Linked DNA regions of Homo sapiens. The protein of the gene in region 1 interacts with the protein of each later gene in a biochemical or structural test. Each region holds a gene or a part of one and is shown in the gene's direction. Other genes may lie near its edges. The genes, in order: SIGLEC10 and CD52.

The links.
Region 2: the proteins of SIGLEC10 (region 1) and CD52 form a complex in vitro, tested with the Homo sapiens proteins (one large-scale study listed by IntAct).

What each region holds. Positions count from the first base shown.
Region 1 is NC_000019.10:51,411,888-51,414,766, reverse strand, and holds part of SIGLEC10 (sialic acid-binding Ig-like lectin 10 isoform 1 precursor), read left to right. Parts: intron 1-251; coding exon 252-345; intron 346-943; coding exon 944-1,055; intron 1,056-2,879. UniProt on the Homo sapiens protein: Putative adhesion molecule that mediates sialic-acid dependent binding to cells. Preferentially binds to alpha-2,3- or alpha-2,6-linked sialic acid. The sialic acid recognition site may be masked by cis interactions with sialic acids on the same cell surface.
Region 2 is NC_000001.11:26,316,497-26,320,883, forward strand, and holds CD52 (CAMPATH-1 antigen precursor), read left to right. Parts: upstream 1-1,461; 5' UTR 1,462-1,521; coding exon 1,522-1,575; exon of another isoform or gene 1,576-1,859; intron 1,860-3,674; coding exon 3,675-3,806; 3' UTR 3,807-4,027; downstream 4,028-4,387. UniProt on the Homo sapiens protein: May play a role in carrying and orienting carbohydrate, as well as having a more specific role.

The sequences.
Region 1 (2,879 bases):
GTAGGGTCCTGTGGTTGGAGCAGGAGCTTGGAGGGACACAGCAGACCCGTGGCATCTGTATGTAGACAGGAAAACACAATGGGAAGTCCTAACACCTGGGCCGGGGTGTGGCAGGGTTTCCTAAAAGTAAACAGAGGGGTTGCAGATACAATGTCCGCCATGGGAACCGGAAGCCTTAATGCCGAGTGATGAGCGGGCTTCGTGAGCCCTGCGTGGATGGGAAATGCTCACCTTGCCCTCTCCGTGTGCAGATAAGAAGGGACTCATCTCAACGGCATTCTCCAACGGAGCGTTTCTGGGAATCGGCATCACGGCTCTTCTTTTCCTCTGCCTGGCCCTGATCATGTAGGTTAAGAGGAGGCGTGGCGGGGTCTGGGGCCTGGACCCAGGAAGAGGGGAGGTGTTGCAGGCCGAAAGAGTGAAGGTCGTGATCAACGCAGTATACCTCTGGAGGTTACATGAGTAAACAGCAAACTGTTCTCATAAATGCAGAATGTTGTCCAACTGACAAACTGCGTCTGCTTCCCAGAGGGAATGCTGAGGGCAGTCACGCCCCAAGCGAAGTGTTTCTTGTAATTAGGCACAGCTGAAGCTTGTTAGTAATAATATGAACCTGTGATCAATTAAACAGCTGACCAATTGTTACCTCCTGCTCTCTGCTCTTTCTACCCAATAAATACAAAGGGCTGTAGAGGCTCAGACAGCTGCCCTGGCTCACTAGTAGCAGGGAACCCTCTTCTTCTTCCCCTGACCCCTTCCTTTAAAATAATTTCTTTTGTCTTAAGTTTTCATTTCTACGTTTGTCCTCCTTCTTTCAGTCTCATAATGACGGTCTCAAGTGGTAACAGTAGTAACTGTCATAGTGACGGTCTCAGGTAGTAAACGTGGCAGTCTGTCACAGGGAGGTGCAGCAGGGCACAAACAGGTGGGTTCATTTCCTCAGCATGAAGATTCTACCGAAGAGACGGACTCAGACAGAAACCCCGAGGCCCAGGTTCTCCCGGCACAGCACGATCCTGGATTACATCAATGTGGTCCCGACGGCTGGCCCCCTGGTGAGTGTCTGGGCCATGCTTCCACTTTTTCTCTTCTCTAAAGCTGACATCCCACTTTCTGACTTTTGCACCCCTTGTCTTAGCGACATCAAGGTGGGAAAAGCACCGATAGTTCTGAATTCAAATCCTGCCTGGCACTTACTAGCTATGAGACCTCAGCCACGTCACTCACCCCCTCTGAGCCTTCATTTCTTCCTCTGTCTCCTTTGAGAGTTGGTTTGAGGATTAGAATACATGCACTTTCTCAATCTGTAGCCATTGTTCCATTATTACTGCCACCATTGACATGACTACACTTAACTGCTTAACAATTATGTGTATCATCGGGAGGCTGGGCATCCTAGGGATTCAGCACAGGGGGTCTGAAATCAGCCTGCATGGGTTCAAATCCTGCTGTCATCACTGTGTCATGAAACAAGTGTCTTAACTTCTCTGTGCCTCAATTTCTTTAGCTGTAACATGGAGACAATACTAGCGGCCACCTCCTAGGATGATGCTGGGTGTTAAATATATTGTACTTGCATAATAAAATATTCAGAATATCACCTGGCCCCTGGGTAATACTCTGTAAATTCTGGAAATTATTAAGAGATAACATCTTATGCTGATGACTGCAAAATTGTATCTCGTGGCTCCTTCCCTGAAGACTGTCTATGCAACATCTCCATGTGGGTGTCTAATCAGCACTTCAAACTTAGCCTGTCCAAAACCAACTTAAGATAATTCCCCAGCCTGAGCAACATAGTGAGACCTCTTCTCTACAAAAAAAATAAAAAATTAGCCGGGTGTGGTGGTGCATGCCCATTGTCCCAGCTACTTGGGAGGCTGAGGTGGGAGGATCTCTTGAGCCTGGGAGTTGGAGGCTACAGTGAGCCATGATGACACCATGCACTCCAGCCTGGGTGACAGAGTGAGACCCTGTCTCAAAAAAAAAAAGGCCACGCCTGCTGGCTCACACCTGTAATCCCAGCACTTTGGGAGGCCGAGGTGGGTGGATCGCCTGAGGTCAAAATTTTAAGAGCAGCGTGTTCAACATGGTGAAACCCCATCTCTACTAAACATACAAAAAATTACCTGGGCATGGTGATGGGTGCCTGTAATCACAGCTACTCGGGAGGCTGAGGCAGGAGAATTACTTGAACCCAGGAGGTGGAGGTTGCAGTGAGATCATGCCACTGCACTCCAGCCTGGGCAACAAGAGCGAAACTTCATCTAAAAAAAAAAAAAGACTAATTCCACCATTTATGCTCCATCTCTATCCCCATCTTAGCAAATAACACCACATTTTCCCAGCCAAGTCTAAAGCTTTAGAATCATATTTCACTCCTCTCTTCTCTGTCACCCCACAACCAATCCATCAGCAAATTCCCTTCAAAATACAACCAAGCCAGTTCTCCCTACTCTTCCCTCACTACTACAAGCCATGCATCAACACCCCCCACCCCACCCCGGGCACCACTGGCCCCTTCTGCATGCCTTCTCTGCTTCCGTTCTCACCCCCTCCAGTCTTTCTCTCCGTGCATGCATGCTATTCTTTATTTTATTTATTTTTATTTTATTTTATTTTTTGAGATGGGATTTCACTGTTGTTGTCTAGGCTGGAGTGCAGTGGCAAGGTCTCGGCTCACTGCAACCTCCACCTCCTGGTTCAAGCGATTCATCTGCCTCAGCCTCCTGAGTAGCTGGGATTACAGGCATCCACCACCATGCCCCCCTAATTTTTGTATTTTTAGTAGAGACGGGGTTTCACCATGTTGATCAGGCTGGTCTCAAACTCCTGACCTCAGGTGATCCACCCGCCTCAGCCTCCCAAAGTGCTGGGAT
Region 2 (4,387 bases), on another chromosome or scaffold:
GGAGTGGCAGGGAATCAAGACTTAATGGATGAATTCTAGGGCAGCCCCAGAGGTTACATACATGGCTGTGGCTTCAGACAGACCTGGATTCAAGGTCAAATGAGACTGGCTCCACCATTTACGACCTTAGCAAGTCACTTAACATCTAAGCCTCAGTTTTTTCACCAGTCAAATGGGGATAAACATAACACCTGCTGCAGGGCACCACAGAGGGTATCAAGTGAGGGAATGCATAAAGCATGGAGCACTATCCAGGCAGCTGTGGGATTCCTCTCATCCCCCCACCCCTCCCTGGGCCCTCACAGCCACTCTCTCACCCCAGTCCCCTTCCACTGTAGCTTAGTCACCCACTTGTCCCTTCCCTCGCTCCCCTCCCATTCATCCTCAGCTAATACAAACAACCCATCTGCTTGCTACTTTCTCTACCAAAATCACAAAATTCTAGGTCTTGGCTGGGCGCGGTGGCTCATGCCTGTAATCCCAGCACTTTGGGAGGCCGAGGCAGGCGGATCACTTGAGATCAGGCATTCGAGACTAGCCTAGCCAACATGGTGAAACCCAGTCTCCGCTAAAAAAAAAAAAAAAATACAAAAAATTAGCCAGGCATGGTGGCACACACCTGTAGTCCCAGCTATGCGGGAGGCCAAGGCAGGATAATTGCTTGAACCCAGGAGGTGGAGGTTGCAGTAAGCCGAGATCATGCCAGTGCACAGAGCAAAACTCTGTTTAAAAAAAAAAACAAAAAAACCAACAACAACAAAACAAAACACTAGGTTTTAACAAACTTCAGAAATAATCTATTTCAGTCTTCCCAGTTCCTTGAAATGAGGAACTGAGGCCTAGAGAGGGAAAGCCCAACTGAAACCAGGCTTCCCGATTCCTCACCTCCAGCACCTTCACAGAAATCCACCAACCCTTCCACAATCTAAACATTTCCCAAGCTTTCATTCAGAACCTGCAGCCCATCTACAACCTTCCCTTGAAACATAAATCTATCCCAGCCCTTCTCCTTCAGCTCCTATACCCTGCCCCAATCTTCTTTAAACAACAAACTCATTTACGGAATATCTGCTATGTTCTGGCTCTTTTTAAATTGGTTATTATTACATGTAATCCGGCAGTTCTTTTGTTAAAGGGTCAGAGAGGTAGAGTTTCTGGCCCAGGGTCTCAGAGCTGGTCAGTGATTAAACCAGGATTCAGCCTGCAGGATGCATGATTCCAGGCCTTGGGCCCTACTTACTCCCACCGTTGCCTCTGGATTGACCTCTCTCCTATCTTGTACGATCTAGCCTGCTCCCCCAGCCAGGGCCTTAGAACCTAGAGCCTGGTATTATCCACCCCCAGATCTGCAGAAAGGAAGCCACACCCCTCCTCCACCTTGTAAGCCCTCCTTCCTCTCCCTACCTCACCCCGCCTCCTCTGCCTCCTGGTTCAAAAGCAGCTAAACCAAAAGAAGCCTCCAGACAGCCCTGAGATCACCTAAAAAGCTGCTACCAAGACAGCCACGAAGATCCTACCAAAATGAAGCGCTTCCTCTTCCTCCTACTCACCATCAGCCTCCTGGTTATGGTACAGGTAAGAGCAACGCCTGGCACCACTGCCAGGACTCCCCAAAGTTGCTTGGCATGGAGGGAGGGCATACAGGATGTGAGCTCCCAGAGACCCAGCCTTCTCTCCTGAGAGCACAGCAGATGGACTCCAACAGGAAAACTGGGGACACAGCGGGCCTGGCCGCCCAGCCTTCCAGCTCTTCTGGCTGGGGCTGCACTGCTTGCGGGCTGCCCTGAGAGAAACCTGTATCCACAGCTGGGGAGCACTTACAGGGTGCTAGGCGCGTTGGGGCACCCAAGGGGTGTTGTGGAATAATAGAGAACTAAGAGACTTGGGAAGACAACCCTGAGTGAGGAAGGCATCGGCCCACAGGGAGTCTGGGGAGATGGTCCTTTGGGGAGAGGCCAGGAGATGTCCAAGTGGAGCCTGCTGTGGTTATGGAGGTGACAGGGGACACTCTAACCCCCACTCCCCTGCCAGAGAGAAGCCTGGATGTTCAGGAATGCAAAGAAGACAGGACTCTCCCATTTCAGAAACAACTGGAGTCTCAAAAGCGACTGCTATTCCAGGAGGCAGCTTTGGTAGCATCCCAGGTGCCCAGAGGGGAGTCAGTACAGCAGACCGGAGCCATCAAGTTCTTGATCAAGAACAGCTTGATCACCATCAAAACCAGCTTAATCTCCATCAAGAACAGTTCTAGTTGCAGCTCCATCAAGCATTAAGGACAGCTCGATCACCATCTGGCCACTTCCCCACCCCACATCCAGCCACCCACGCTTTGCCAAGTGCTTTCTCACTCAGCCCTGGCTCATGTGACCTTCACAACTGTGATGAACTTCTCCCCACTCAGAAGATGAAACTGAGGCTCAGGGAAGCTAAGCCCTTTGCCAGGCTAGGAAGGTCAAGGGCCAGGGCTCCCCTGTCTCCCTCTATGCCAGAAGGGCTGGTCGCTGGGGAAAGGTGAAAAGAAAGGTTCTGTGACCGGGCACGGTGGCTCACGCCTATAATCCCAGCACTTTGGGAGGCCGAGGCAGGCGGATCACCTGAGGTCAGGAGTTCAAGACCAGCCTGGCCAACATGACAAAATCCCGTCTCTACTAAAAATACAAAAATTAGCTGGGCGAGCCGGGCGCGCTGGCTCGCGTCTGTAATCCCAGCACTTTGGGAGGCTGAGGCGGGTGGATCATGAGGTCAGGAGATCGAGACCATCCTGGCTAACACATTGAAACCTCGTCTCTACCATAAATACAAAAAGAAATTAGCCGGGCGTGGCGTGGTGGCGGGCGCCTGTAGTCCCAGCTACTCGGGAGGCTGAGGCAGGAGAATGGCGTGAACCTGGGGGTGAAGCTTGCAGTGAGCCGAGATCACGCCACTGCACTCCAGCCTGGGCGGGCGACAGAGCAAGACTCTGTCTCGGAAAAAAAAAAAAAATTAGCTGGGCGTGATAGCGGCTGCCTATAATCCCAGCTACTCGGGAGGTTGAGGGGTGGAGGTTGCAGTGACCCGAGATCATGCCACTTCACTCCAGCCTGGGCAAAAGAGCGAAACTCTATCTCAAAAAAACAGAAAGTTTCTGTGAAAGGGGGTGGACAGGGGCAGTGATCACCTCTGTCCCTGCCTGTGTCAAAGCAGGAAGCAGTCAAACATCCTGACAGGACCTTGTGGAAGAAGTAGTGGTCACATGGGGCAGAACTGAGGACTGTTTTATGGAGGTGGGCGGATGGAGGGCGGGGAGGGTAGAAAGGGGACTGCATCTTTAAATAACAAACACGCTATTCAAAAGTCCCCTGAGGGCTGGGTACGATGGCTCACACCTGTAATCCCAGTACTTTGGGAGGCCGAGGCGGGTGGATCACCAGGTCAGGAGTTCGAGACCAGCCTGACCAACATGGTGAAACCCCGTCTCTACTAAAAATAGAAAAATTAGCCGGGCGTGGTGGCACGTGCCTATAGTCCCAGCTACTCAGGAGGCTGAGGCAGGAGAATCACTTGAACCCGGGAGGTGGAGGATGCAGTGAGCCGAGATCGCATCACTGCAGTCCAGCCTGGGTGACAGAGTGAGACTCCACCTCTAAAAAAAAAAAAAAAAGTCCCCTGATCTTATCCCACTTCTCCTCCTACAGATACAAACTGGACTCTCAGGACAAAACGACACCAGCCAAACCAGCAGCCCCTCAGCATCCAGCAACATAAGCGGAGGCATTTTCCTTTTCTTCGTGGCCAATGCCATAATCCACCTCTTCTGCTTCAGTTGAGGTGACACGTCTCAGCCTTAGCCCTGTGCCCCCTGAAACAGCTGCCACCATCACTCGCAAGAGAATCCCCTCCATCTTTGGGAGGGGTTGATGCCAGACATCACCAGGTTGTAGAAGTTGACAGGCAGTGCCATGGGGGCAACAGCCAAAATAGGGGGGTAATGATGTAGGGGCCAAGCAGTGCCCAGCTGGGGGTCAATAAAGTTACCCTTGTACTTGCAGTGGGGTCCTGCTTGTGGTTACTGGACATCCCTACGCCCCAAGAGCCAGCTGTGCAGCAGCACCAGGGAGTTTCCCATGTCCCCATCAGCAGGGAAATTGGCACCAGGGAGCAGCCCCCAGCTTCCCCACCTAAATTCCAATGCTGAGGGCCCTTCCCCTTAGAAGCACATTGCAGGGACAAGGCCCAGAACCTGGCAGCCTCACCAACCCTGCAGTTGCGTTTGCTTCATCCATCCCTGGGTGTTTGGGAATGATGGTACTAGAGATGCCACCACCCTGGACATCCCAGGCTCAGAGAGCCCCTACCCCACTACCTGGGTGTCTTCAGAATGACAGATCCAGGGAAATCCCCAGTCCCA